Regions from separate parts of the Homo sapiens genome. Here regions 1 and 3 are each linked to region 2. Evidence: fine-mapped expression QTL. A gene starts in region 2. Each other region holds a variant in brackets. All regions are shown on one strand. Distances are from middle to middle.

The links. PIP is the estimated chance that this variant, and not a neighbour inherited with it, causes the effect. A credible set is the group of variants that fine-mapping cannot tell apart.
Region 1: its variant is the best candidate, but not a certain one, in a credible set for the expression of GATA2 in whole blood (INTERVAL, PIP 0.56).
Region 3: its variant is the best candidate, but not a certain one, in a credible set for the expression of GATA2 in lung (TOPMed, PIP 0.56).

What each region holds. Positions count from the first base shown.
Region 1 is chr3:128,597,470-128,607,989 of GRCh38, forward strand. No RefSeq gene overlaps it. Among named protein-coding and RNA genes, the nearest start is that of LINC01565, 27 kb to the left of the region's middle. RefSeq lists an enhancer at 5,339-5,838. The variant T/G (reference allele first, on the strand shown) is at 4,033.
Region 2 is chr3:128,487,439-128,496,474 of GRCh38, forward strand. It overlaps GATA2 (GATA binding protein 2), which reads right to left and starts at 5,763. Exons shown (of 6, transcript NM_032638.5): 1 at 5,461-5,763. GATA2-AS1 (GATA2 antisense RNA 1) reads left to right here and starts at 1,765. Exons shown (of 3, transcript NR_125398.1): 1 at 1,765-2,232; 2 at 2,341-2,631. RefSeq lists enhancers at 1-301, 1,269-2,079, 2,080-2,891, 2,892-3,701, a cis regulatory region at 233-2,014 and silencers at 389-588, 5,473-5,562.
Region 3 is chr3:129,301,298-129,311,817 of GRCh38, forward strand. HMCES (5-hydroxymethylcytosine binding, ES cell specific) reads left to right here. Exons shown (of 7, transcript NM_020187.3): 6 at 653-845; 7 at 3,292-4,889. The coding sequence ends at 3,528. Among named protein-coding and RNA genes, the nearest start is that of H1-10-AS1, 9.7 kb to the right of the region's middle. RefSeq lists enhancers at 4,261-4,845, 8,966-9,025 and a cis regulatory region at 4,325-4,825. The variant A/G (reference allele first, on the strand shown) is at 5,505.

The DNA of each region.
Region 1 (10,520 bases), 110 kb after region 2:
GTGGCAAGGGGGAGAGTAGTGTTTAGGGAGACCCACTGCGTGCCTGCCACCAGGCTAAGTGCCCTCTGCACTAAGCTACTCTCATCCTCGAGCAATATTAAGAGGCTGGCATCGTGCACCCAATTTTAGAGATGAAGAAGCAGGGCCTCCGGGACCAGAAGCCTCAGCTCACACAGGATTGAGTGCAGAGCTAAGGCTAGAGCCTGTCTGCCTGGCTGCAGGGCCTAACCCCTGGAGAGAGAAGACAACATCACCCTGCTGGTGCTGTCCTCTCAGCCCCCTCCATGCCCTGGGCACTGGGGCCGGATGCCCAGCAGGGGGTGGTGGCCTTGGCCCTGGGCAGACATTCTAGAAAGCCAGCAGTTCATTAGGTCCCCTGCTCCAAAACACAAGGGCCATGCTTGAGACTCATGGGTGAGGGCAGGGGTCTGCTGCTTCTTCCAACCCCCACAACCAAGATGGGCAGGGTGGACACTGGTGTTTCTCAGGCTCCTGTGAGTGCCCAGCCCTTGCCATACCAACCGGTGACAGATGTTGCTGTCCCAGCTGCTTCTCCACGCCTGGTGCAGCCCTCCAGCGAGCTTTGTCAGGCCTACATGGTGATTCAAACACATCTGAGTCAACATATAAATATCAAAGGATTGCACTTTTTAAAATCCAAATTTCACATTTCTCTAGGAAAAAAGTAGATCTGCCAGCCCTAGGCCCATACTCTCACAGATCCCCAGTCAGCTAGTGCTGAGCAGCAGCTACCTCTTTGCGTGAAACATGTGAGCATCAGTTTGCCCCAGTCCCCGCCACCTGCAGCCGAACTACTGTTTTCTTTCTTTTCTGGAGGCAGAGTCTTGCTCTTTCACCCAGGCTGGAATGCAGCGGTGCGATCTCAGCTCACTTTAACCTCCGCCTCCCGGGTTCAAGCGATTCTTCTGCCTCAGCCTCCCAAGTAGCTGGGATCACAGGCACGTGCCACCACGCCCAGCTAATTTTTTGTACTTTAGAAGAGATGGAGTTTCACCATGTTGCCCAGGCTGGCCTCGAACTTCTGATCTCAGGCCTCCCAAAGTACTAGGATTACAGGTGTGAGCCACCACACCCAACCCTACTGTTTTCATTTTTAAGGGCCCTTATGCTGTTGGTCTGCTTGTGGTGGAGGCATAGTCCTTGGTACCCATGTCTCCATCAAAAATTGGAAAATAGAAAATAAATTGAAGGGCCTCAAGTCTTATTCTGTGGACATGCAGAATGTTCACGTGCAGTCCATCTGCAGACGCCTGTCCTGTTCACTATGTGCAGCACCGCTGGGCCAAAGCTCCCTCTCAATGTGGTAACGGCTGCGCACTGCTCCTCCCCAGGGGGGTAATGTTCAGCCAGGTATTTAAGAATGGCACCTCCGCAGTCCACCCCCCCAACACAGCAGGGGCCCCAGGAGGCTTGGCGTCTGCGATCTCAGGTCTCAGGGCCCTCAGCCCTGCTCCCCAGGCCGTGCACACAGGGCTGCCTGGGTTTGAGGGTGCTCTTCCGTGGGCTCCATGCTTGTGGCGTGCATCTGCCCCAAGGCAGGCCGAGCCTGGGGCTGGGTCCTCTCTACCAAGCCCCTGGCACTTCCCGAAAGGGCTGCAGATAATGCAGCGAAGATGGCTGTCAGCGATAAGGACGATGATGACACCGACAAACGGCACTGCCCGGAAGCTTCCCGAAAGTGATCTGAGATGCATCTTCTGATCTGTGAACCTCCACAAATGAGAGTCCCCTACTTTCAGTTTGGGCCTCACATAATCGCTGCCAGAAACTATTAAAAATATATTTTATAAACTATCCCCCTTGCCCTGTTCATTTATTTCTGGAAATCTAGTCTTAGAAAGTCATTAAAAAAAAAAAACAGATAAAGGGAGGGGAAGAAAAAAGAAAAAGTTATGTTCATGAAAATGTCCACTGGGCAAGGACACACCCAAATGATCATGGTGGGAATGCGGTTTTGTGGGGAAATGTTTTGTTTGTTCATTTTGGTTTTGTTATTTTTAAAACTTTCTGCAATGTTATATCACTTCTCAGAATAAATAGATACAGGCCGGGAGCAGTGACTCACGCCTGTAATCCCAACATTTTGGGAAGTCAAGGCAGGAGGATCACTTGAGTCCAGGAGTTCAAGACCAGCCTGGGCAACATAGTGAGACCCCCATCTCTAAAAAAAACTTAGCTGGGTGTGGTGGCACACACCTGTAGTCCCAGCTACTGGAGCAGAGAGGTGGGGGCTGAGATGGGAGGATTACTTGAGCCCAGGAGGTTGAGGCTGCAGTGAGCTGTTATCATGCCACTGCACTCCAGCTTGGGCAACAGAGCGAGATTCTAACTCAGAAAATAAAATAATAAATAAATGCAAGCCAGGTGTGATGGTTCACGCCTGTAATCCCAGCACTTTGGGAGGCCAAGGTGGGTGGATCACCTGAGGTCAGGAGTTGGAGACCAGCCTGGCCAACATAGTGAAACCGCATCTCTACTAAAAATACAAAAAAAAAAAAAAAAATTAGGTGGGCACGGTAGTGGGCGCCTGTAATCCCAGCTACTAGGGAGGCTGAGGCAGGAGAATCATTTTGAGGCAGAGGTTGCAGTGAGCCGAGATCGCGCCACTGCACTCCAGTCTGGGCAACGAGAGCAAAACTCCATCTAAATAAATAAATAAATAAATAAATGCAACTTTAAAACTTCCAGGCCACCTGTGGTCCCGCCAGGTGAAGCTGGTGGTTAACAGCAAAGACAGGCTTCCTGGGCTCCTGTCCCCACTCCTGCAGTCCCCTGCCAGTGTCTGTGGCAAGGTCCTAACCTCTTTTTGGCTCAGTTTCCTTTTTTTTTTTTTTTGAGACAGAGTCTCACTCTATCACCCAGGCTGGAGTGCAGTGGTGCAATCTCAGCTCACTGCAACCTCTGCTTCCAGGGTTCAAGCGATCCTCCTGCCTTAGCCTCCCAAATAGCTGGGATTACAGGTGCCCACCACCACATTCAGCTAATTTTTTTTGTATTCTTAGTAGAGATGGGGTTTCACCATGTTGGCCAGGTTGGTCTTGAACTCCTGACCTCAGATGATCTGACCACCTCAGCCTCCTAAAGTGCTGGGATCACAGGTGTGAGCCACCATGCCAGGCCAGTTTCCTTATTTTTGAAATGGGCACAATAACAGTTCCCACCGCTTCGGGCCATTGCTTGGATGAAATGAGTTAGTTTGTGCAGAAGTGCTTAGAACAGCACCCAGCTCACAAGTCCTTCTGAAGCCCCAGCCACCCTCCTCTACCTGCTGCCCCCTGCCAGGGCCTGGGCCCCTCCCTCCCTGAGTCCCTTACCTCCTCGGCTTCCCCAGGCCTGCCCTAGAGCCACCCTCTTTCTCAGCCAGTCCTCAACTTTATGACCTTTATCTCTGGAACGCTGATGTGAAGCTCCGATTTGAGGTTAAACTTAATTCATTTTATGCAGAAGAAAACCTTAATTCATTTTATGTTTTATGCTGACATATTTCTCAGTAGAACACAGCCATCATGTCTTCATACACCTTTATATACTCCAGGGCACAAGTGAAAAAATAAAGTTTTTCTGTATAGTCAAAACACATTATCATCGCTGACAAAATAATTCATCAATTCTGTCCAATAGTTGGTTCACAGGCAAATTTAGAGGCAACATTTAAAAACTGTAATGTCCTTCTTTTTTTTTTTTTTGAGACAGGGTCTCATTCTGTCACCCCGACTGGAGTGAGCCCAGTGGCATGATCTCAGCTCACCACAACCTCTGCCTCCCAGGCTCAAGCAATTCTCCCGCCTCAGCCTCCTCAGTAGCTGGGATTACAGACGCGCACCACTGCCACCCGGCTAATTTTTGTATTTTTAGTAGAGATGGGGTTTCACCATGTTGGCCAGGCTGGTCTCGAACTTCTGACCTCAGATGATCCACCCACCTCAGCCTCCCAAAGTGCTGAGATTACAGGCGTGAGCCACCGCACCCAGCCCGTTTTTTGTTTTTTTGTTTTTTTGGTTTTTTTGAGAC[T/G]GAGTCTCGCTCTGTCGCCCAGGCTGGAGTGCAGTGGCGCGATCTCGGCTCACTGCAAGCTCCGCCTCCTAGGTTCATGCCATTCTCCTGCCTCAGCCTCCCAAGTAGCTGGGACTACAGGTGCCTACCACCACGCCCAGCTAATTTTTTGTATTTTTAGTAGAGACAGGGTTTCACCATGTTAGCCAGATGGTCTCAATCTCCTGACCTCGTGATCTGCCCACCTCGGCCTCCCAAAGTGCTTTTTTTTTTTTTTTTTTTGAGACGAAGTTTCACTCTTGTCACCCAGGCTGTAGTGCAATGGTGCGATCTCGGCTCACTACAACTTCCAACTCCCAGGTTCAAGCGATTCTCCTGCCTCAGCCTCCTGAGTAGCTGGAACTACAGGCACCTGCCACCACGCCCAGCTAAATTTTTTTTTTTTTTTTGAGACGGAGTTTCACTCTTGTCACCCAGGCTGGAATGCAATGGCGCGATCTCAACTCACCGCAACCTCTGCCTCCCAGGTTCAAGCGATTCTCCTGCCTCAGCCTCCCAAGTAGCTGGGATTACAGGCACAAGCCATCATGCCTGGTTGATTTTTGTATAGACGGGGTTTCGCCATGCTGCCCAGGCCAGTCTCAAACTCCTGAGCTCAAGCAATCTGCCCACACCTCGGCCTCCCAAAGTGCTGGGACTGTGGATGTGAGCTCCCCTGCCCGGCCAAAAGTTTAAAAATAAAGAAAAGAATGAGGCAGAAAAACATAACCAATATACGCAATCTCCAAAATAACAGGTGAAGCCCAGGTACCACAGGCTGAATGGCTGTGCACTCTGGTCCTGTCTATGGAAGAATTCACACAGCCTTGGATCTCAGCCCACAGGTGCGCAGGACCCCAGGAAAGCTTGCAAAATGGCTGTGGGGGCAGGGGGAGCATCTCATTAAAGGGACAAGAAAAAGCCATCATCGGGGTGGAGAATGATTTAAATGGCCTTGGGGAATTGCCGCAAGCTCTGTATCCCTCATAGCCTTACCACAAGGACAGGAGTCCTGGGTTTCTCAGGCCTCCTGATTTCAAAAGTTCCCTCCCCAACTCTTGTTGATACCCTCAGCCAGCTGGGGGTCCCAAAGTGGGCTTGAAAAATGTTTAGACGAGGGCCTTGTCCTCCCCTACCCTCTGCCCAAGAGGGACAGCGCTGTTATCCCAGATTCAGGCCCTGGAGCCCATCCCCACTGGCTGGGCAGTCTGAGTTTGGCTTGGGCCAGCAGAGCCCCCGGGTGCTCCAGCCCAACTTTGGCCATGCTGCCTAAGAGCGTCTTGCTAAACAGACGGCCTGGAGTCCTAGACCCTTGTGGGAACTGGAGCCTGTGCCAGCCTGGGGGCCCGGATCTCCTTCCTCCCAGTGCGGGGCCTAATCACTCATGGTCAGCAGGAGGCCTGCAGAGGGAGAGACGAGATTGGCCCTCCAATCCCTGCCTCTGGGAAAGGTGGCTGGGGCCAGGTTCTGGAGAAAGGACCTGGAGCTTCCAGGAAAGTTTAGGAAGCAGAGGGGGGACCCCTTGCCCTGCCAATTCAGACCACTCTCACGAGTTGGGGCCAGAATAATTAAGCGGCTTCCTCTGGCGCCTACTCTGAGGGGTCGGTAATGATGTCCAGCACTGTGATGAGGAGGATTCTGAGGCACCGTCCATGATTGAAGGAAGGAGCTCCTTGGAGATGTTGCCACCTTCGCCACAGTAGAGGACGGGTAGTGTGCAGATGTCTGCCACCCTGGAGGTAGGGTCTCTCCTTCCCCCAAGTTCTATGCATGATCTCAAGTATAGAGGGGTGGGGAGGTGTTATCAGGAGAATGATTCATAGTATTGCTCTCATTACGGTACAGCTCCCAGTCATGGAGCACCCACTTTCAGCCAGGCACTTCATAGATGCTGCCCTGTAGTAATCCTGAAATGCTAAGAGAATCGGCAAGGGCACGCATCTTGCCGATCTCTGAACATTTGCTTAATGGGGGCTGGGCATCATGATCCCATTTTACAGCTGGAACAACTGAGACTCCAAGCACCTGCCAAGGCCCCACGCTGGTAGGAGTGGGCCCCAAACCTGGGTGCCCTCTCGAAGGTACCCTCAAAGCCAGGGCCTGGCCTCCCGCTGCCTCTCCTAAGCCCCCACTCCAGGCCTGAGCTCCCCTGCTGATGGGGGGCAGGGGACACGCCATCTGTCTGCAGAGGCAGGGGTGCCACTGGGGGGGACATGCCACCCCCACAGGCAGTGGACGGGGCCTCCCTGCATCCGTTACTTGCCCCCTGCCCAGACTCTGCCCACCGCACAGCAGTGATAGATAGTTTGTGAAATACCCTGAGCTTGCGGTTGACCAGAATTCTGAAATAATTCCATTGAGACCGGAATTCATGCAATGTTCTGTATCCTGATGTGGTAAAGCAGGCTGCCCGCGGGGGCGCAAGGGGATGTGAAGGCCTGGGGATGGTGAGGCAGCCTCCAGGCCCTGCAGCAGGGGCTTCTGCCACCCCCCCTCGCCCACGGGCTCCGGAAGGCCCATCTGACAGGAGCAGGGCCCTGATAAGCACCACCTGACCAGGAGGCCCCCGGCAGAGAGATTAATGCACAAATTGTCAACAACCTCCCCATGCTGTACCCCCGCAGAGGAGCAGGGCGGGGGGGCACTGGGAAAGGAAGGACAGAGGAGGCCTCACCCGGAGAGAGGCAAAAGGACAGCTCAGCCCGGCCTTGCCCTGCGGCCTCAGCCTGGCTGCCCCACCTGCGCCAGCCGGGCTCTGGACACCTGGAGGGGGAAGAGGCCAAGGTGTGAAGGCAGGCTTGTATCATGGGCCAGTCTGATGCCCAGGCAGGTCCTGGCTGTGCAGGAGGGTGGGAGGGAGCTGCTGCCTGCTGAGCCTCCTCAGCCTGGAAGCTCCCCAAAGCCAGAGCTGACTCCAAACCTCCTGGCCCAGAACCCTGCGCTCCAGTCCCTGGCCCTGCCAGCCCCCAAGGTGGCTTCCCTGGAGGAAGACATGTGTTTCTCCTTGGCGAGCACTTCTCTCAGTGCTGCAGAGTGTCCCTGTGTTTCTGCAGCCAGGCAGGACTGGACTTGGCAGAGCACAGCAGGACTGCAGGAGGAGGCTGGGGGTTGCTCTGGGGTCATCATATTCAGGACCACACACGGTCGACAGGCTCAGGCCAGTGAAGTTCCCTCTCCTCATGGGACAACCAGAAGCTCAGGGGCAGCCTGGTGGGTTTTCTATAAAGCAAAATGCAGCCATTGAAAGGGCTGTCCTGGGTTCTGCCATTAGGAACTTCCTATTTCTTAGGTGGGGGAAACTTTTCTCTAAAGCAATGAGGGTACCAGCAAATCAGAGACATAAACTGAGGGCCACTGGCATACGGAGCTTGCTGCATGGGTTACCAGGTTTTTATTTTCTTTAAGTCCATTCTTTCAGGCTGTATTTCCAGCTTTGCTTTGGAAGCTCTGGCCACTCTGAGCCCACATTCCTTCGTGGCCCTATGCCTGGAGCTGAGCAGGGGCCACCCTGAAACAGGCCCACCCACTTCCCACCCCTGCTCCTCTCTGCAGTGAACAGAACAGTGAGGATCCAGAGTGTGAACCCCATGGACCGGGAGGAGTATGTGTCCCACAGGACAGCACTGGGGTTCACGCTTCTGCAGAGTCCCCAGCCTGGGGTCCGTCTCAATCATTCTCCCACCTCTGCTGGGAAACTCAGCTGCTGCAGTCACTTGTCATGGACTATTTTCATGCAGGTCCATCTTCCTCATTAGGTTGCCAAGGACATGGGACACAGGCTTAGGGGCCCCGGGGTTCGGGGACAAGGAGTGAGGTGAGGCTGCACAGACCTGAGTGCTCAGTTGAACCCTCTGAACCTTTTCAAGAGATCTGGAAAATTCTACTGTTCTTTTTTTTTTTTTTAAGAGGCGGTTTTGCTCTGTTGCCCAGGCTAGAGTGCAGTGGTACAAACATAGCTCACTGTAACCTCGACCTCCTGGGCTCAAGCAATTGCACCTTGGCCTCACAAATAGCTGGAACTACAGGCATATACCGCATGCCTGGCTAATTATTAAAATTTTTTGTAGAGATGAGGTCTCCCTCTGTTGGCCAGGCTGAACTCCTGGGCTCAAGCGATCCTCCCACCTCGGCCTCCCAAAGGTCTGGGATTATAGGCATGAACCTCTGTGCCAGATGGGAAAATTATATTTTTTAAGTAATATCTCTCAGGTTTTAAATGTTGAAAATGAATTCATCTTTCAGTAATGATAATAATATTCTATAAGGAAAAGAAAATACATCTGCCAGCTAGGAGATGGCAGCCTCCAATTAGGAGCAAGGAGGTTCACCAGATCCCATGCTATCTGGTCAGTTGGTGTCAGGAGGGAATAAAACTATCCCATGCAAAATTTTCTGATCATCTTTTCCAGCCCGGCCCAGGACTGATTCCAGCACCTACCTAAGTCAGATCCTAGCCAGTCCTCAGGGAACTAGGTATGGAGCAGTGGACAGAGAAGGATAATTAAAGCAATATAGTGTGACATCCTGTAAATGAATGGAGACTTTCCAGAGGAATTCACAAGAAATTGCTAACACTGTGTTTCTCTGGAAGAGAAGCTGGTAGGAAGCCGGAGATTCTGCTTGCCTCTGTATACCCTTCTGATCTGTCTGGATCCTTAGTATGAGCATGTGTTAACTCTTACAATTGGGATTTTTTTTTTTTTTTTTTTGAGATAAGGGCTCACTCTGTCACTCAGGCTGGAGTGCAGTGGTGTGATCTCAGCTCACTGCAACCTCAACCTCCTAGGCTCAAGTAATCCTCCCACTTCAGTCCCCTGAGTAGCTGAGACTACAAGTACTCGACTCCGTGCCCAGCTAATTTTTACATTTTTAGTACAGATGGGGTTTCATCATGTTCGGCAGGCTGGCCTCGAACTCCTGAGCTTGAGCGATCTGCCCACCTCAGCTTCCCAAAGTGCTCGGATTACAGGCATGAGCCACCACGCCTGGCCTTTTACAATTTTTAAAATCTCTCTTTGTTGTTACAAACAGGGTCTTGCTACGTCACCCAGGCTTGCCTCAGACTCCTGAGCTAGAGCGATCCTCCCTCCTCAGCCTCCCAAGTAGCTGGGACTATAGGCCCATACCACTTTTACAATTTTTAAAACACAGAAACATTTTGTAATGAATCTGGATATAAACAGATGTGGTGATACCATCACAACATTGTAACCCCAGTGCACAGAGACCCCAGCAAGGCAGTAACCATGTCTATGAGAGGGAGAAGGAAAGTAGCACTTAAGCTTTCCCAGGAGTAACCCTGGGGGTGGGTTTTAGAGAATGAATAGGAGTTTTTCAGCGGGGCGCGGGGGCTCACACCTGTAATCCCAGCACTTTGGGAGGCCGAGGCAGGCAGATCACGAGGTCAGGAGATCGAGACCATCCTGGCTAACACGGTGAAACCCCGTCTCTACTAAAAACACAAAAAATTAGCCGGGCGTGGTGGCGGGTGCCTGTAGTCCCAGCTACTCGGGAGGCTGAGGCAGGAGAATGGTGTGAACCCAGGAGGTGGAGCTTGCAGTTAGCCGAGATCGTGCCACTGCACTCCAGCCTGGGCTACAGAGCCAGACTCCATCTCAAAAAAAAAGAGAATGAATAGGAGTTTTTCCAGGCAGACAAGAAGGAACACTTCGAAGACCCAGGACACCAGTAGCTGTGGGGATCACTGGGGAAGGTTTTGTGGCATTTGTGGAGGTGTTAAGCCTTGAAGGAGGGGAGAATCGGAGTGAGACGGGGGTTAGGGTAGGGAGTGTAGCACAGGCATGGACACAGCACAATGCCAGGGACAGTGGGATCTGGCTGCAGCTCCAGGAAGGCCATCTCCCTGATGTCAGGGAGGGGTGAAGACCTAGGTTCAAGTCCAGGTTCTCCCAATTACTTGGCGTGAAGCCTTGAATTTGCCCTATCCATGCCCCGTTCGCTCACCTGCTAAAGCAGGGATGTGTAGCAGGGCGTAATGGCGCACGCCTGTAGTCCCAGCTACTCAGAAGGCCGAGGCAGGAGGATGGCTTGAGCCCAGGAGTTTGAGGCCACTCTGACCAACATAGCCAAACCACATTTCTAAATAAGTAAATGGAAGCGTGGAAGTTGTGCCCTACTGAGAGTGTGTATGAGAAGCACCTGAGAACCACAGCTAATGAACTGCCCACAGGCTGTGAGGAGTTTGCACCGGTCCTCATTGCCTTGCTCAGGGTCAGCCCAGGAGAGGGGCCGCCCCACCCAACGCTGCCACACAGGCTGGGAAAAGCCATGGCTCTCCAACGGGCATCCACACTCCCGGCTAAGCAAAGGCTCTGCAAAGCTGGGGCCAGACAGCCACTCAGTGTCTGCTGTTTCCTCTGGCCCTGAATCGCAGGCCGCGCTGGATGGCTCTGGTGCCAAAGGGTGGCCTCTGAACAGGAACCTCGGCCTGGGAATGTCCCTGGGACCCC
Region 2 (9,036 bases):
GGAGACAGGCGCCCGGGCACCCAGTGTGGCACTTGATCCCAGCGACACGCACACACCCACACTTGGCGCCAGATACACATACTGATCTCAACCCCGAAAACATGCACACGCAGCCCCCTGAGCGCAGTACTAAGCGGCACAATCAGGACCTCTCAACAAAGCACACCAAAGCAGTCGCCCGCAGCCTGGCCCCCCGCCCTAAGTCCCCCCAGAGTCCCCTCAAAGCTAGGAGCGCCCCAGGCCCCCAGCCGGCTCTCAAACCCCAAACTTACACACGCAGCCGTGGGGAGGGGAGGGACTCGGCCTCTGAGAGTGAAGGAGTTCCGGCGGGAGCCCCGAGGGCGACGGGCCCAGGGACAGCACGTCCGGAGGCTGGCGGGGCTTACAGGGTAGGAGCTGGGGGTAGAGTGCGCCTCGGCCTCGGGCCCTCCCGGCTCCGGCCCCTCGGCATCCTCCGGCCGCCCTGGCGCCAGCTGCCGACTCCTGCACAGACATGAAGCGGGGGCCGCGCACGCCTAAGAAGCCCAAGCCAGCCAATCAACGCCGCGCGCCTCCCAGCCTCCGCCTCCCATTGGCTGCGTCCGCAATTCCCGAACCGCTGGACTCCGGGACTGACCCGCGGGCCGGCCCCCCTCAGCCGGCGGGCCCCCTCCCTGCGCGCTCCTGGCGGCCCCTGCTGCCAACGCGCCCCACCACTAAGGGACCCTCACCCCAAGGCCCGACCCCTGCAGCCCCTCTTGCGAACACTCCGGGATCCCTCGATGCTCTGGGCCTCCCTAGCAGTAACTAACCACCAACTGCCCCCTCCCCAGGAGCCCGGGCCGCACACCCTCTGGATGGCCTCTCCCCGAGACCCTAACCCCGCCACGCTCCTTCACCGCTGAACGTGGTCAGTCCGAGCGCAGTTACCTACCCAGACCGTTCCCTCCCCTAGCTCGGGCGCTGTCTGGGTGGACTGGGGGTTGGGATGGTTCGGACGACAGCGGCGGAACAGCAGGAGCCGAGAGGGGCAGAGAGGGGCAGGAACTACAGGGCTCTAGAGGGCACCTGGGCCTCGGACACGCGGCCGCTCAGGGCTGTGCTTGACCCAGTGGAGGTGGCCCGGCCGGTGGCTCCAGAAAGGGGGAGGGGGCACCCCTCCCCGGGCGTGGCCTTCGCAGGCCAACGGGCCCAATTGCCTGGGGCGAGGCCGTGGAGACCCGGACTGGCGCCGGCGCCAGCTGGAGGGAGACGCCCCCGGGCAAGAGGTGGCATTTTTTTTCCTCCGGGGGGGGTCCCCGAGGTGGCCTCTGGTGAGGGGGAGGCGGTGGTCTGAGGTCTCCGTCTTCTAAGTCACCTGGAAGTGCTCCCCACTCACTTCTAGCCCGGAGATCGGCTCTATGGTTCGTGTGGGCCGGGCGCACAAGTCTTCCTCCCTCCCATTGTACAGACTGGGGAGACGGAGGCTCGAAGGGAGCCCCGGGCCGAGGAGGGAGGTCCAGGACAAAGGCATTTTGGGGGACCTAGACAGGTGCCGAGTACTGGGGGGACTCAACAGCGTCCTCCAGCCCTCTTCCCTGTTGGGCCCGAGGCTCCCGGGGTAGATGTCCAGAGGGCCCCCAGGTGGGTCGGGGGCAGGAGGAGGGCTGGGGTCCCGGCCACCCCCGGGAGAGTGGGGGAGGGGCGGCGGGATTGACAGTCGGTAATTGGGTAACTGGAGGCGGCTTCTCCGGCCGGGCGGCCCCGCCACCGCGACGCCGAGCCCCTGACGTCACCCGATTCGCCAGGAAATGAACTTTTTAATAATCCGAGGAGGGAGGAAAGCCCTCGGTCCCCTCGGCTCCGGGGGCGCCCGGCTGGGCCCAGCTCCGCGGGCGCGCCCCCGTCACCCCCTCCCAGGCCAGTTCAGGGCAGCGCCAAGGGGCCGCGGGCTCAGGCTGAGGCCTCCTCCTGCCTAGGCGTCTGGCGTCCGTTTGTCTGTCCGAGGCCTCAGCGCAGGTAAAGCGCGGGGCTGGGGGGCGCAGAGCTCCATTGGGCTGGGAACCAGCGCGTCTCGTGCCCTTGGGGGACCCGCCTGCCCGAGCCGCCTGCTAAGCCTCCCGCTCCCCTCCACGCTGGAGCGCGCGGAGCCCGGTCTGCTCGGAACTCCACTCTGCGGGAGCGGAGGCCGGCGCCAGCCCGGGAAGCCGCGCAGGGGGCGGGAGGCCGAGCGCGAGGCCCTTGGCGCCGGGCCTCCGCGGCCAGGCCGGGCAGGTGAGCAGTCTCCGTGCCTCCCGGTTGGCGTTCCCCTCAACGCGTGCGGTCCCGCCGGGGCCCACTGTCTCTCCGTCCGTCTGTCTCTCAACTTTTCCCATCCTTTAGCTTACGATTCTTCATCAACTCGTAAAATGAGATCGCCGCGGAGCTCGAGCCTATTTGGCGTCTCCGGAGACTAGCAAGACCCTCTGAAAGACACCGCGTCCCCAGGGATAATCCCCCGTGTCCGGCAAAGCTGCCCCGCTCGAGCGCGAACCCTGGGACCCAGCGCGGGAGGCAGACCAGCAGCTGGCCGCTGGGCTGTGAACGCCAGGACCGAGCGGAAGCTTCCCGCCCGGCCGCGATCGGTGCCGCGGCTCTCAGGGAAGTGGCTACGCGCGTCCCTCGGGAAAGCAGGTAATTCGCCTTTTTCTCCCACCGGCGCGGTAAAAATTACCCTCCCCCTCCCCGTTCCGTGTGTATTCCCAGTTTCAGCGCAGCGAGCTCGGCGTCTAACCCCTCCGCGGCAGGGTCCCGGCCACTGCGGTAGTGGAGGTGGCCAGCCTGGCTGAGTCCCCTGCCCAAACGTCAGCCCTGTGCTGCCGCCTGCCTGACGCAGAGCGGAGCGAGGGAGGGGATTTAATTACCCCGCTCGGCAGCTCAGAAAATCGCCGCACAGAGGGGCTTAGCAGGACGGTTAAGGAGTGCTTGAGCAGGGGCCTCGGGAGACCCGAACCAGCCTCCTTGCCCGCAATCCGGTGTAGAGGAAAAAAAGGAAACAGGAGTTCTGCCAGGTCCTTTCAGGCCTTGGGGTTGCCTTCCTCGACAACGCAGGCAGGAGCCGGCTTGACCGAAGCCTCCACCTCGGTTGCAGGTCCTGCGTAGGATGCGGGACTGCTGCATTCTCTGGCGGAAACGAACCCGCCTGGGAGAGAGAAATGCGACGCCAAGTAGCAGGGCGCCCAGCTGGCCAATAAAGAGGGACCCGCGCTCGACAATGTCTGTGTGTGCCAGGCAGACCGAGGGACACCAACCGGGCCCCTCCCCATTAGGCCGAAGACATGGTCCTCCCACCTTGGGCCCCAAACAAACTCCCGGGGAGGGTCAACGCAGCCCCCAGAATCTGCTGGGGTCTTGAGGCGCTGTTCCAGGCCTGGTGAGAGCAGATTTACTCCAATTTATGGGCTGGAACTTTGGGGTCCCCAAAACACCTTTAGAGGGACGCGTTCCCTTTTTCAGTACTTTGTTCGTTCGGGAGTATAGTTGGAAATGCTGGCGCTGCCTTTGATCACATTAAGAAGCTGTCACTTTCCTTACTTGGGAACAAGATTTCTCTGAGGACTGGAGAAGGTCAGCCAGGAAGCAGAATTTTCGAAGGACCCTTTTGGCCCGAGAACTCACAGCGGCGATCGCCACCATTTGACCTGGGTGCTTCTGCCTGGGAGCTGGGGAGGTAGCAGATCTGGTGCCCGGTTCTAGAGTGCTTCTCAGGCCTCTACTAAGCCGCGGGTGCCAGGTGGGGACACAGAGATGCCCAGGTCTCCCCGGCCGTCCAGCCCCCCCCCCCCTCTGAGCCCTTTGTTTAAAGTTAGCTCATCCGAGGCGGCCCCTTTGGGACCATAAGTTTGCCCTCCCTTTGTAACCTAATTCTTCTCGCCTTTTCCTTATGGGCAGCTAATTGGCCCGCGGTGTGGGGCTGGGGGTGGGGTGTCAAGGAAACCCATTTGCTAAGGGACTACCTTCCATAGAGAAATTTAATTCGCAACCCAGCGGCCTCCCAGCCCCACACTGGCAATAAACCTTGAGGGGTACGGGGAGGAAGTGGGGTGCCTTAGCAGATGGGTTCAGAAGTTCCCTTAAAGCCGGGGCATTAGATCTCAGGCCAGCAGCCATCCCTCCGGGGGGGTTCCCAAGGGGGGGACTACTGCTATAACGGCCCCTCCTGCTCCTTGAGGTTCAATTCCAGCCCCTTAAAGCAGAAGGCTCCCTCCCTCGGCATCAGTGCAGGCTCTCCCACCTCATTACTGTTCTGTGTCTTTGGGAATCGTAGAGTCTGTGGCCCCCACGTCCTAGGTGTCTCGGCACCCTGGACCCAGGCGCCTCCGAGATTCTATATCGCTTCTGACCCCTACCTTCAAGCCTGGCAGGCTCCCCGCGGAACCCTGCTGAGACCCGGAGACAATCGGGCCGTGCTTCTCCCTCCTCCACGAACAGCCACGGTTTATTTGGAGCGGCCGGGGCCGGCGGCCTGACAACTGGTAAATCCGTTTCGTTAGGCACAATTTGTCTGCAATTTGTCAGCCCGGCTGGGAAACGCTCCCCAGACGCCTCGGCTGCCGCACGGGCCCTACCTGGTTCTCGAATCCTGCCTGCTCATAAACGAATCCTAGCACGGGGTGCCTGCGTAGACCTGGAGCTCACCACCAGATGTTCCCGACCTCGGGAGAGGAGGCTTTTTCCAAAACAACGAATTTCCTTCCTTGTTTTCCGGTAAAGGAGCGTTCGCCACACACGGGGTCCCTGAACGCGGGGCCTTTCCCCTCGTGGTTGGAGCAACGCGGAGTTCAAGCCTGGCCGCCACAGAATAATTTTAAATGCCCCGTTTTCAGACAGATCCAGAACGCCGTCTACGCCTACCGGCGGCAGATCTTCAAGCCCGCGGCGGCCCCATTCTTATTGAAATCCCACTAAACGGATTCCGACTCCGGCTTGGGGCGGGGGGAGACTTCCAGACCCGGCGCTCTCCCCCACACGCACCCCAGTCACACAGGATAAAGGGCTGCGGGGCGCAGCGCGCGGGGGCGCAAGCAGGAGCGAGCTGGGTTAAGCCGCGAAAAGCCGGCGCACGGGACCAGCCGGCAGGTGCAGCCGCCGCTCGGCGGCCCGGCTCGGACGCATCCGCCGCGGTGGCCTGGGGATTGGGGGCGGCCGAGACAAAGGCCCCAGTTCGGGGGCCGGGAGGCGGGGGTGCTTTGCGAGGCTCTGGGAATGCCAGGGTCTCGTGGCCTGTGGCTCCGAGAAATGGGAAGACAAGAGGCCCGAGGCGGGCCTGCTGTGCCCAGGTAACCAAATACTCCCTCTGGTTAAAGTCCCTATAACCAGGGTTTCCGGTCTCTGGCAGGGCCAAGGCGAGCCCCAAAGGTAGGGGCCACAGGGCAAACGGACCAAGCGATTCGGGTGCCAGGCGGGCCGGGCCGGGGGCGGGAAGGGCCGGGCCCAGGGAAGGTGGAAGTGGAAGAAACTCACCGAGCGAGGCGCGGTGGGCGGCGCCCCCGGGCGGACGGGGCCTGGAGTAGAGCTGGGAGCAGGGCGAGGTGCGCGGCAGGCGGGCTCGCGGGACCTGGGCGCGGGGTGGCGGCGCTCACCAGCAGAGCCTGGGCGGCACGCCGAGCGGCCGCATGGTGTTCAGCGGACCGCTTTTGTCCGCCTGGTGGGCGACGGGGCCCTGCTAGGATGGATGTGGCGGCAGGCAATAGACAGACTTGAGCAGCGAGTCCCGGGGCGACGCTGGCCTCGCTACCTTCCTGGCGCTCACGCTGCCTCTCTCTCCCCCACCGGCCGCAACGCGGCTTTTTATTTCGACATCACTTTGCGGGGGGGCAGGGGGTGGCGACGGGGGCGGGAGCGCCGCAGGGGGCAGGAGGGTACCCGGGGCTCTGCACCCGGCCTACCAGGTCCAGCCGCCTGGCCGGCCAAGGGCCGCTAGGCACTCAGGGCGCGCACACCCTGTGCATCCACACTCCAGGCCGCTCCCACCCTCTCCGGAGCGCACACGCGCGCCCCTGACCTCAGGGATGCTTGCTCAGAAAGCTTGGGACACGTCTTTACTGAGACTCTCCCCGGGGACCCTCAGGAGCTGTGAGCACACGCACTCACTGATAATGGTACACAGACGCCCGCTCCTCTGTCTTCAACCCACTTCCAGGAGTGCTCACACGGACACGCACACATCCCTGCACATGTGCACACAGCTGTGGCCGCGAGGACATCCTCAGACAGACGGCCTGGGTCACACCGACACACATGGCCATACAATCAGATGCAACTCGGCACTCGGGCTCACACTCAGGACGCCCTCACTGCCAGGCTTGTTTAGCTAAGTGCAGGCGCAGCCCCTCTCCCTGTCCCACCCCCCCTCCAGTTCCTAACGCTGGGGGACCCCCTGAGCACTTTAGAAGTCCACTGTCTGGTGTCCCCCTGGCCCATCTCCTTGGGGCAGACTCTCACAATGGGGGAAGCAAGGAAGTGTGCAGAGGGCTTGTTCACAGAAGTGGGAGTCAGGAGGGGGGGAGAAAGTGAGTGTGGGAGTCCTCATCCCCAGAAGGCCCCTGGGTTTGTGGGCAAAGACAGTCCAGTCCTTGTGCTGCCAAAGTTCTTACTAAGGGATTCAACCAGTCAGCGTCCCCCCACCCCCACCCCTGATTCCCATTCCAGCAGATCAGGGAGAGTGAAAGTGGCCTGGGGACCTTGAGCCCAGAGGGAAAGTGCTTGGGCTTGGAAGGACTGGGAAATCTGTGCTCCCGTGCCCAGGTGTGCCCCAGAGGAGTGTTTCTGTCCCCTGGTCTTTGTGACCCCTGCTGTCCATAGGTCTTTCTCCAAATCTGGTGGTGACTATTGCATTGTGTGTGTGTTCTATGCATGTGGCTCAGAGTCTATGTCCTGTGTGCCCAGGTGTGTCTGTGTGCACTTAGGAGCACACAGGAGTGTCTGCAAAACTGGGTGTATGAGTATGTTCATTTCTTCTTGTGGGTTCCTGAGAGTTTGTGTATTGGGCAGTAGGTCACAGTGTGGCTATTTCATGACCCTGGAATTTGGCACAAGAGAGTGTGTCTGTGGAAATGGTTGTGCGTCCCTTTGGCTCTGTGTCTGTGGGGTCATCATGTCAGAGACTCATGTAATGAGGGGTGGGGATTTCCAGGTGTTTGCCCATGTGTCTGTAGCAGTGTGTGGCATGTCTATGAATGGGTGTGTTTTGGAGTGTGTGTTTGCGTGTGTATGTGCATGTATCTAGGCATGTGTTACTGTGTGTATTTTTGTTGTTGTTGTTGTTTTGTTTTGTTTTGTTTCTTGAGACAGGGTCTTGATCTGTTACCCAGACTGAAGTGCAGCGGTTCAATCAGCGCTTACTGCAGCCTCAACCTCCCAGACTCAAGCCATCCTCCCACCTCAGCCTCCTGAGTATCTGGGACCACAGGCATGTGCCACCGTGCCTGGCTAATTATTTTTATTTTTATTTTTGTGGAAACACAGTCTCACTATGTTGCCCAGACTGGTCCCAAACTCCTGGACTAAAGCAATCCTCCCACCTCGGCCTCCCAAAGTCCTGGGATTATAGGCGTGAGCTACTGCGCCTAGCCTGTGTGTGTCTTTAATAGTTTGTACCTGGGTATCTGCATGTGTCCTTGAACTGGTGTATGTGTAGGTGTGTGTGTGTGGTGTGTTGCATGTGTCTGGATATCCATGTATAATTCTCTTTATTAATTGATGGCTGTTGGGGCGTGTGTTTGTGTTTGTGTATTTGAACATGCATTTGGCTATGTGCATGTCCATCTGTCTTTAACAGCATAGGTATCAGTGTATATCATTGTATCTTTGAACTGATGGTGGGGAGGAGGAGATGTATCCGAGTGTGTCTGCATGTCTACGTACAGCTCCATGTATGAATTGATGTGTGTTGCGGTGGGTGTTTGTGTCTGCGTATCTGGGTTGTGGGCAACTGTGTATATGACTACATCTTTGAAATGCATGTTTCTGTGGCCAGCAGTGCCCTGTTCTGTGGACTGTAGAAAAGTGTGTCCTGGGTGACACGCGGGGTGTGCATCCTGCAGGATCACACACCATCCAGACCTTCCTTAACCAGCAGGGCAGGCCGCCAGTGGAGCTCTAGGGTACCATTTGCTCGGGCACTTTCTGTCTGTCTGTGGGAGGGGAGATGAGCTGATAAGGCTTATCTGCTGTCGCCAGCGCCATGCTGAATAACTGCTCTAATGAGGTGTCCTCATTGGGACCACCCGATCCCAAGGCCCTGGGCCTCACTGGGGAGGGGCATGGGCGAGCTTGTCTGAAGCACAGGAGCAGGGCCTGGGTGCCTACAGGGCCTTTTCTACTTCTGTCTTGTTTCCTTGGAAAGGGGGTTCCAGGCCTTGCACCTCCCCACCCCACCTGCCTCCTGCCTACTGGGCGGAGCTGGGCTGGCCAGGCCAGAGCTGGCTGGAGCCTTCCAGTCTCTGGTCTGTGGCCAGGTTCACAGCCTTGAGAGGGCAGGAGGTATGAGGCCTGGAGATGTGGGGCCCTCAGGGTGGGGTGGATGAAGAGAAATGGAGATTCAGTGACAGAAAGATCCAGAGAGACAAGGAGTGGGGAAAGAGATGGGAGGCCCAAAGACAGATTTTAAAAAAACAATGAGGAAGAGGCACTGGTGGGGACAGGCCTGGAGCTTGGGGACACTTGGAGACAGACAGAAATAAACAACTAAAAAGTGGCAGAAAGGGTCAGAAAGATGGGAATAAAAGCAAAGAAGGTGATAACCACAGAGACATGGACAGAGACAGGAGAGAGATAAGAGAGGACAGAGAGATAAGACAAAAATAGAGAGATTCAAAGAGAGGCGCAAAGAGCCAATGCGAGAAGAGGGACGTGAGAAGGGCCCCAGAGAGAAGAGTGGGGACGCAAAGGAAAGATGGGCAGGATGGGATGGACAGACTGAGATGGAAAGGCCGACAGGGCTTAGCCGCCAAGCTCGAAGGAAGCGCGGGAGGCCGGGCGCCGGGCGAGGATGGGCTGGGCATGAGCTGCGGGCCGCGGGCAGGGCGGGACACCAAG
Region 3 (10,520 bases), 810 kb after region 2:
ATTCATTTAAAAATGTACCATTATTTTATACATTACAGTATTTAACATTATTTTATATGTTATGTATATATTTAGGAGACAAATGAACATTTGTCTGTATCTGAATCAACTGTACCACCCAAAAAGTGTGTGCCACACTGCATTGGCCTGGGACATAAAACTGGAAGCTAAACCTAGTATATTTTCCTTACATCCTCTGGGTACCAGGAGTCATGTTTGACAGCTTCTCTGCTTTTCTGACGCATGGCTTCCTTTTGTTCACAATTTTCTTACTGTAAGTCTTTCAGAGGTGGTGAGGCTTGAGATTGCTGTTGATAGACAAGTTTTCAAGATCTATTTTCCCTTCATTCTAGGCTGGGGTGTCATAGAAAGTTTACCAATTTACTAGAGTGGACACTGGAGTACACTAGACCAGTTAGTACTCTTCACTGTCTTTGCCATGAAACTTTATAACATGGCTCTCCAGGTGTTGAATCTGGTGCCCTGTCACCCTGTGCTCAGGGAACACATGGCAGCAATCAGCATGTGAGGCGCAGAGGGAGGGCAAGCTCCCCTTGTGATATTTGAGGTATCAGCTGACTCAAGTCTCTCTCCCTTCTCTCCTTATTCTCATGCTACCTCTCCCAACCATTGTCTTAACTTCCCTGGCCAGGATGCCTGCCATATTAGATGGAGAGGAGGCAGTTTCTAAATGGCTTGACTTTGGTGAAGTCTCAACTCAGGAAGCTCTGAAATTAATCCACCCAACAGAGAACATCACCTTCCATGCAGTCTCTTCTGTGGTGAACAACTCGCGAAACAACACTCCTGAGTGTCTGGCTCCTGTCGACTTGGTGGTCAAAAAGGTAGGGGCCTGTGACTGGTACAGTCCTTTTTGAGCTTTCTGTCTTCTGTCAGTGTTCTCTTTCTTTCAGGATGTGGCCTTTTATGATCAGCCCTTTAATTTGGACCATCAAAAGCTCTCATACTCCTTGTACACAGCAAGGTAGTGTAGAGCAGCAATTCTCAAACCTGGCTGTGACTCAGAGTCCCCAGGAGAAGAACTCTTTCAAAATGTAAATGCTAGACCCTATCTAGACATCCTGAATCAACATTTAGAGCTAGGCTTGGACTTTTGTATAATTAAGAAGCTTCAGGCTGGGCGCAGTGGCTCACGCCTGTAATCCCAGCACTTTGGGAGGCCGAGGCAAGTGGATCACGAGGTCAACAGATCGAGACCATCCTGGCCAATATGGTGAAACCCCGTCTCTACTAAAAATACAAAAATTAGCTGGGTGTGGTGGCCCGTCCCAAGTAGTGATCCCAGCTACTTGGGAGGCTGAGGCAGGAGAATCACTTGAACCTGGGAGGTGGAGGTTGCAGTGAGCCTAGATTGGGCCACTGCACTCCAGCTTGGTGACAGGGCGAGACTGCGTTTCAAAAAAAAGAAGCTTCAGCTGGGTGCAGTGGCTCATGCCTGTAATGCCAGCACTTAGAAGGCAGAGGTGGGAGGGTAGCTTTACCTGAGGAGTTCCAGACCTGCCTGGGCAATATAGTGAGACCCCGTTCTCCACAAAAAGGAAAAAAAAAAAAGCTTCTTTGATGAGTCTGATAAACCACATTTGAGGACTCCTAATCTAGACAGTGATGGTGAAAAAGACAAAGGAGCCCTTGACCATATTGTTTCTCCGTCCCCAACCATGATTTTTGGTGTCTCTTTTCTGTATCTTTGCTTTCCGAACTACAAGTTGCAGGAGCTCCAGTCCTTAGTCTCCTTCAGGAGGATTTGAGAGCATTCCTACCATGAACCTTAACTTCTTAGAATCAGCAAGGATCCAGAGGGTGTATTTTAGGAAGGGAAGGCAAACAAACAGAAGGCCTGCAGTGGGGAGAGAAGTTCCAGAGCAAAAAGCTGGCCCCCACTGACATTTGGGGGTAAGGATTTAGGAGTAGTGATTGTTTTTAGGTGGCATGGAGGGACTTAAAATAGGACATACTTGGAATGTTCCAAGAATAGACATTTTAGAATGCCGTGTTAAGGATGATTGTAAGAACAGCTGTCCCCCTCTCTATTTTTCTTAAAGTTTTTTCCATACCCACAGTGTCATCTTTTTTTCTTTTGTTTTGATTCTGATAAACTCCTGCAACCGTGGCACTTTTTAAAAATTAGATAACTCTAAAACTAATTCTATATACAGGTTGAATATCCCTATCCAAAATGCTTGGGAACAGAAGTGTTTTAGATTTTGAATTTTTTCAAATTTTGGAATATTTGCATTATATACTTCCTAGCCGAATATCCTAAATCTGAAATGTACCAACAAGCATTTCCTTTCAAAGTCATGTAAGCACTTAAAAAGTTTAGGATTTTGGAGCATTTTGGATCTTGGATTTTCAGGGTTAGGATGCTCAACCTGTATTCATTTTGGACTAGACGCTGCCCATTTCTGCCATGGTCTTTTTTTTTTTCCTTTTTCTTTTTTAGAGACAGGGTCATGCTCTGTTGCCCAGGTTAGACTGCAGTGGCATGATCATAGTTCACTGCAGCCTCGAACTCCTGGGCTCAAATGATCCTCCCACCTCAGCCTCCCAGGTAGCTGGGACTACAAGCGTACACCACCATGCCTGGCTCATTTTTTTAAATTTTTTATAGAGATGGGGTCTTCCTATGTTTCCTAGGCTGGTCTCAAACTCCTGGGCTCAAGCGATCTTCCCACCTCAGCCTCCCAAAGTGCTGGGATTACAGGCATGCACCACTGTACCTAGCCCTGCCATGGTGTTTACTCCAAAAGATGTCACATTCTGGAGAGGTGGCATTGTGCTAATTCAGAACCTTTCAGTTCAGGATTGGGGTGTGATGTAAAGGAAGCAGAAGGGAGTAGTGACAGTCAAGAAGAGGTTGTACAGATTGTCTGCACAAAGAGGAAACAATTTAGCCTTATCACAGTGGCTGTTAGAAATTCTTCTGTATCTCTCCAGTCTCGTTTTCCAACACTCCCCCTGGGTCATGCTGAATTACATTCTTTTCCCTGAGAATGCTTCATTCTCTGCACATTTGGAATGCCTTTCAGCTCTCTTCTCTGGCTGGTCCCACACAATCCTCTGTGAAACCTTCTCTAAGATCTACTTTCCTGCCCCTTAGAGCACACTCCTCTCTTTCCACTCTTGACTGGTGGGCCCCAGCTGGCCCTTAGTAACATTTTCCAAGCCTGGGTAAGTACCTAATGCCTCTTCCCCTGTTTCTTCCCTTGGACTTGGCCTTTTCCCAAAAGCTTGAGCTGTATGGTTTGAGCTTTTTCCTCTTTCTTGTAGGAGCTCAGGGCAAGTGGCAGTAGCCAGAGGATGTTGCAGTGGTTGGCCACAAAGTCACCCAAAAAGGAAGACTCAAAAACACCTCAAAAGGAAGAGTCAGATGTTCCCCAGTGGTCCAGTCAGTTCCTGCAGAAGAGTCCACTCCCCACCAAGAGAGGCACTGCAGGACTCCTAGAGCAATGGCTGAAGCGGGAGAAGGAGGAGGAACCTGTGGCCAAGCGTCCTTACAGCCAGTGACACAGGACTTTCAGAGACCAAGGCCAGGGTCTGCTGCACTGCTGTTCTGATAATAGGTTCTTAACATTGTATGTATATGTGTTTGCTTTGGGAGGAGGTGGCACTGTGTTAGTTGACAGTTGTGGGCTCATGTAGTCTTTTTTGCCATGAGTAGGAGCCCCTAGTGGGGCTGGTGGACAGCTTTGGAAGAGGTGTCCTGCTGCTGTTACCAGCCATGTGGGCCCCATAGGGGCACTGCGCCTGCTGCCCTTTCCTGGCAGGGCTGGTGGAGTCTTCCCTCAAAGCATGCCTTACCCAGCTGGGAAGTCTCTGCCCTGATCTGGTACTCCTTGTAGTAAGCTGTTTTCTGCTCAGCCACTGGGCTCTTTCACTTTTTTAGTTCTTAAAAATTTATTTTTAAGTTCTAAAATAAAATAAAAATAAGTTCTTAAAATTTATTTTTTTCCTGAATAAATTGTATTTGGTAAACTTCTGCCTACATTTTGGAAAGTGATGCTGGTGGGGAAAGTTCTAGATCTTACTTGGTTTCTTCTAGAATCAGTCTTCAGGAATGGATTTTGTCACAAATGGGGCATGGGGGCTTTCTGAGGAAATAACTACAAGTCTTGGTGGTGGGCTCCTTATTATGTTTCTTTTTCTTTCATTCTTGATACTTGGAAGTCGTCTGAATCCTTTAGCTTCAAACCAGCCTGAGTTTGAGTGCTTGCCGTAGCAGAAACTATCCTTACCACAGGTGGGAAGGAAAGGACCAGTTTCTAGCAGTGTCGGGCCACTCCTCTTTCGAACATCCCTAAGGGAGGCATTCACAAAAGCTGTCCCAAGCAGCTGGAAGAAAACAGCTTCCGAGATGACCAGGAGGACTGGGCGGCGCCGAGCCCAGAACGCTCCTGGCGCAGCACCGTTGGCGTTGGCCGATTGCTGCTGGTGGGGGGCGGGGGTGCAGGCCCCAGTCTCTATGCAAATCAGGGATCAGAAGATCGGAATTTCCACCAATCAGCGGGAAGCCTCGGCCCTGTAACTGCTAATGGGAGACAGCAGCGCCACGCCACAGGCTTTTCCCCTGGTTTCGGGAGGGGTGGGGAGCCAGGTGGGGCTCCCGCCCAGACCCTTTCCCGAGGTCCGCCCTCTCCGCCTTTTCTCTAAATTCCTCTTTTGAGTGCCCTCCCTTCCGGTTGAGAGGCGGGGGTTGGCCCGTAGTTGTACACTCAGTCACCCTGCACTGTGGAGGCGGGGGCCTCCCTTGTGGACTGATTTGCGTGGGATTTGGTTGTTTTATTAAGAGATTTAAAAAATTCAGATGACTTACTAGTATGACTGTTTTGTCATATTTGCTTCCAGGTTAATAAATGACAAAAATGAAATTCCCTTTGTTTTTCATTATCATCTCCCCACTGTTTCTCATGGTTGCAAATTAGTTTGGTGAGGTCTTTTCATTTTAACATGAAAGAATATAATGCCTGCAGGGGCTTGTTTCCTTTTCATTCAAGTTTTTATACTTTCATATAAACGTGATGTTAGAAGCAAATCCTGGCCGGGCGAGGTGGCTCACTCCTGTAATCCTAGCACTTTGGGAGGCCAAGGCAGGTGGATCACCTGAGGCCAGGAGTTCAGGACCAGCCTGGCCAACATGGTGAAACCCTGTCTCTACTAAAATACAAAAATTAGCCGGGCATGACGTTGGGTGCCTGTAATTCCAGCTACTTGGGAGACTGAGATAAGAGAATCGCTTGAACCCGGGAGACGGTGGTTGTAGTGAGCCAAGATCACGCCACTGCACTCCAGCCTGGGCAGCTGAGTGAGACTCTGTCTCAGAAAAAAAAAAAAAAAAAAGCAAATCCTTATGTCTGAGAGCATACAGTATCATTTTATGAGTTTCAGGTTTACATAAATGGTATCATCTTGGGCATTCTGCAACTTCTTTTTCTCTAAGTCATCAGCTTTACTAGGTATTGCCAAATTGCTCTCCAAATTTTCAC[A/G]TATTTCAGGGGCATAAGAATCTTCATTTTCCCACCTTGCCAACATTTAATCCTGCTTACTAGAGCAATGGAACATCTTCCCGTCTTTTGTTCTTAGTCAAATCTGGACCAAACAGGGTAGCTCCCACCTGCCTGTCTAGGTGTGGCCAGGTGGAGCCAGGCCCTCTACCAATCTCTGGCGCAGGTGGGGGCAGGCCTAGGATGTGGCCATCTGGCCCCTCTGCTTGGCTCCCAGATAGCAGTCCTTCCCACCTCCCTCCCTTTCACCCTCTAGCAGTGACCAGGCTTGGCTCTAAGTCTTAAGGGTATGCTTCCCTGCACTGTAGCCTTAGAGGAGGCAGAGGGTCCCTGGGATTTCTGGTCCTGATGGATACAGGTGCCTGCCCCTCAGTCCTGTCTGCAAGTCCATCTTGATCCATTGTCTCATGCAAGGCTTGTATGCCTAAAGCCAAACCTGCTTTGTATAGAGGTGGAAACAGACCCAGGCAAGCGCATATGGCTTGACATAGGTAAGTTAAGGACAAGTCCACGGGACTCCTGGCTTGGGAGTAGTGTATCAGCTTGGGGAAGTTGGATGAGATCTTGCTTGTAGCCAAGAAGAGTCTGGAGGGTGGGTGTCGTGGGGGGAACCAGAGGCAGTAAGGGAGGTCTCAGACTCCTAGATTCCTACCTGGGCCTGTAGGAGCTCCCCATTCTTACCTGGGCCTCTTTCTTCTCAACCAGAGTGAGGAACAAGTGATGGGAAGGGTTGAACCTCATTCCCTGGGGATAGGAGCTTTGGCTCAGGCTCCTCTGAGTACTGTCTGCCTGAGAGGGTCCTCAGTACATACAGAACTTTTTTTTTTTTCCGAAACAAGGTCTTGCTCTGTCACCCAGGTTGGAGTGCAGTGGCACGATCTTGGCTCACTGCAACCTCTGCCTCCTGGGCTCAAGTGATTCTCCCATCTCAGCCTCCCAAGTAGCTGGGACTACAGACGCATGCCACCACACCCGGCTAATTTTCATATTTTTTGTAGAGATGGGAGTCTCACTATGTTGTCCAGGCTGATCTCAGACTCCTGGGCTCAAGCAATCCTCCCACCTTGGCTTCCCAAAGTGCTGGGATTAAAGGTGTGAACCACCGCACCATCCAAACCCCTGTCCTACCACAGAAAGTTGTAAAAGGCAGAGTCTTTCACAGTCCCTAACCAAGGCAGCCAGAAGAAGGATAGGGGTTGGGAGAGCCAAGAAGAGGCGAGCAAGAAAAGGAGCCTCTGGGAGGGCATATTTATAAGGTGCACTGGGCAAGGCTCTGGGGTCCTAATGACAACCCTCTATGGAGAGGTTGTTACCCAGGTGTAGACACTCAGCACTGGCAGATAGGTCTCTGGCTTTCACTAGTGTATGGCTACCTTTGGTTGAGTCCCCTTCAGGACATCATCATTTGGGGCTTCTTGTCTTGTGAAGTGGCCAGAAGTGTCCTCATAGAAGATCCAGTTGTGAAATCTCAAAGCTGGGGGACTTCAGGCCACATTTAGCTCACACAGTGATTTTGTTTGGCCCATACAATATATATTTATTTTTTAATTCTGGTAAAATGCATGTGACATAAAATCTGCCATCTTAGCCTTTTTTTTTTTTTTTTTTTTTTTTTTTTTTTGAGACAGAGGTCTTGCTCTGCCCCCAAGGCTGGAGTGCAGTGGCAAGATCTCAGCTCACTGCAACCTCCACCTCCCGAGTTCAAGTGATTCTTCTGCCTCAGCCTCCCGAGTAGCTGGGGCTACAGGTGCCCACCACTATGCTCAGATAATTTTTGTATTTTTAGTAGAGATGGGGTTTGTTGGCCCCATGTTGGCCAGGCTGGTCTCAAACTCCTGAGCTCAGGTGATCTGCCCGCCTCGGCCTCCCAAAGTACTGGGATTACAGGCGTGAGCCACTGTGCCTGGCCAAACATTTTAAAATATACATTCAATACTGTTAATTGTATTCACATTGTTGTGCAACCAATCTCTGAACCTTTTTCATCTTGCAAAACTGAAAGTTAAACAACTCCCCATATTTCCCTCCCCTCAGCCCTTGATAACCACCATTCTACTTTCTATCTCTGAATTTGACTACTCTAGATACCTCATTTAAGTGGAATCATGCAGTGTTTGTCTTTTTGTCACTGGCTATTTTCACTCAGCATAATGTTCTCAAGATTCATCCATGTTGTAGCATGGGTCAGAATTTCCTTCCTTTTTAAGGCCAAATAATATTCCATTGTATGGGTAGATCACATATTTAAAAATCTACTTATCTGTCAATGGACCCTTGGGCTGCTTCCACCTCTTGGCTATTGTGAATAGTGCTACTATGAACATGGATGTGCTCTTCTCATCACTGCTTTCCAGTCTTTGGGGCATTTACCCATGAGTGGAATTGCTGGATTGCATAGTAATTATATTTAATTTTTTGAGAAACTGCCATGCTGTTTTCCATAGCGGTTGGACCATTTTACATTCCTTCCAACAGTGCAAAAGTGTTCCAGTTTCCCCACATCCTTGCCAACACTTTCTATGTTCTGTGTTTTTTTTTGTTTGTTTGTTTGCTTGTTTTTTGTTTTTTGAGACAGGGTCTGGCTCTGTTGCCCAGGCTGGAGTGCAGTGGCTCGATCTTGGCTCACTGCAGTCTCCATCTCCTGGGCTCAAGCGATTCTCCCACCTCAGCCTCCTGAGTAGCTGGGATTAAAGGCACACACCACCATGCCCAGCTAATTTTTGTATTTTTTGTAGAGATGGGAGTCTCGTTATATTACCTAGGCTGGTCTTGAACTCCTGGGCTCTAGTGATCCTCCCACCTTGGCCTCCCAAAGTGCTGGGATTATAGGTGTAAGTCACAATGCCCAGCCCTGTTTTTTCATAGTAGCCATTCTAATGGGTATGGGGTGTTTTTTAAGTCCATATTTTAAAATAATGGGAAATTTCAGAAAATAGTTTAGTTTCCACTTTCAAAAATTTTGAGGAGGTGCCTCCGACAACCAGGCCCCATGTAGGACCACTGCTGCACTGAGGTACCCTACCCCATTCCTCCCTGCATGGCCAGACCACTCCCAGCCTCCAGAGAGGGACTTGGAAACTTTCAGGAGGTGCTTCTTCTAACATTATTTGGAAAACTGGGAAGCTCTGAAAACAATCAGTAAGAGCTGGGTAGTCACTGCCCCTCTTCAGGTGGAGTCTGTGTCTTCCAGTTGGCTAGAATGCTCTACCTGGTCTGGAAGCCCTCCTCACCACCCCCCACACCCATTTTTAACTGTGGAATTGGGAGGGCTTTGTAACATGCCAACTTGGCCTGGCTGAACCATATTTTCCAGAACTCCCTGACTAGTATATTTTCCATCAGGGTGGGCCAGGAGGCAGATTCTCATCAGATTTGGAAGGAAGCAACCATTTGGACTGCTGATCTGCTGACTCACCTGATTGGCATGAAGCAGCACCTGGACCTGCAATTGCTGTGCTTTTCCCGGACTCTCCTTCAGTTTTTTCTGACTCCTGGGGCAGGTGTGTGCACGTCTAGCTCTGTGGCTAAGGGTTCCAGCTTCTACCTTCATCAGTGAGGTCAGAGACAAAAAGAATAGACACAGGTTTCAGTCTGTTGTCACGGGTCCTCCCTGTGCTAGTGGGGTTTCAGTATGCTCATGTGCTCATGGTGTTCCCCTCCTGACCACCTGCCTGTGGACTTCAAGCTCCGTCAGTCTTGGAGATACAGCCTTACAGAAACTGCTTAATCAGCCCCTACAATTGTGCAAGCCAGTTCCCTGGTTTTCCTTCTCCATTGAGTTGACATGGGAACCTGAAGCCCTGCTGACTTCTCCGGCCTCATGCCCTGTCACATTGCCCCCACTGCTTTTACCACTACACCTTTCACCATTCCCCAAACCCAGCAGCCTGTGCTACTGTGGGGCTTCCAGTCTGGAATGTCCCTACCAGGAACTTTCTGGTTTATCTGTCCTTCTCCTGCAAGTGACTGAGTCCCATCGCTGCCTCTGCTCCCATTCACCCCTAGCTTGGCACAGTCCAAGAGAAGGGGCCCAATCCAGTAGGTGTTGAATGAATGACTGTGGACTAACCCCTTGGCATATGAGATGTTTTGTTCTCCCATACCTCTGCAAGTATCACCGCCCCCAGCTTGCAAGTGTGAGTAGCCCTAACAGCAGTTGCTGTGGGGAGAGCCAGGACTTCTTTGCCTCCTCATAACTGGTGGAGCTGCTGGAAGAGCTAATATGCCCTGGGCCACATCACCCAAGATCTGATGACTGGGACAGTGAGATAGCAGTACCCCTTGTGCTAAGAGCTCAGACCCTTCCCAACAGTCCCTGTGCTCAGCTCCAAGCCCTGCCCTGGCAGACAGACAGCTTTAGACCAGGTTGGTCTAGGGACATTGACTGAGTGGAGATCCCTTTCTACCAGTCACTAAGGCTACACACCCTGGGATGGGGCCTTTGCAGTGTCTGCAGAGCTGTCCTGGGGCCAGGGAGAAGGCAGATTGGGGGACCCAGAAGGCAGAGGTGAGATGTTGAGGCTCACAGGGAGGAGGCAACATCGCAAGCAGAGTAGCCCTGGCGACAGATAGGGTGCTAACCCCAGGGGGATTCAAGGGATTGGGGGTGCAGAGGCTGGAGGTCTTGGCCAGAGACAGTGTGATCAGACTCTGCCTAGTTAGCAGATGAATGATTTTTAAGTCTTTCTTAGCACCATTTACGTATGAGGAAACTGAGACTTGGGGAGAACAATCTTGCTTGCCCCAGACCCAAAGATCATAGTGGAGATAGGCCCACTATGGTAGCTTCTAGCAGGGGCCTGCTCCCACCTGCCCCCTCCTAATATTTAATACTAATCCACACTGGGCTGCAGAGGAGAGCTCAAGCCTGGGCTGTCTTGCACACAAGTCCTTTGCCTCCTTGCTGTACCAGGGTCACCTCCTCTAGAAAGCCCTTCTCCTTAGCCTCACAGTGTTAAGTGCCTTCAATGTTCAACTGGAATTGAGGCTTCTTGAAGC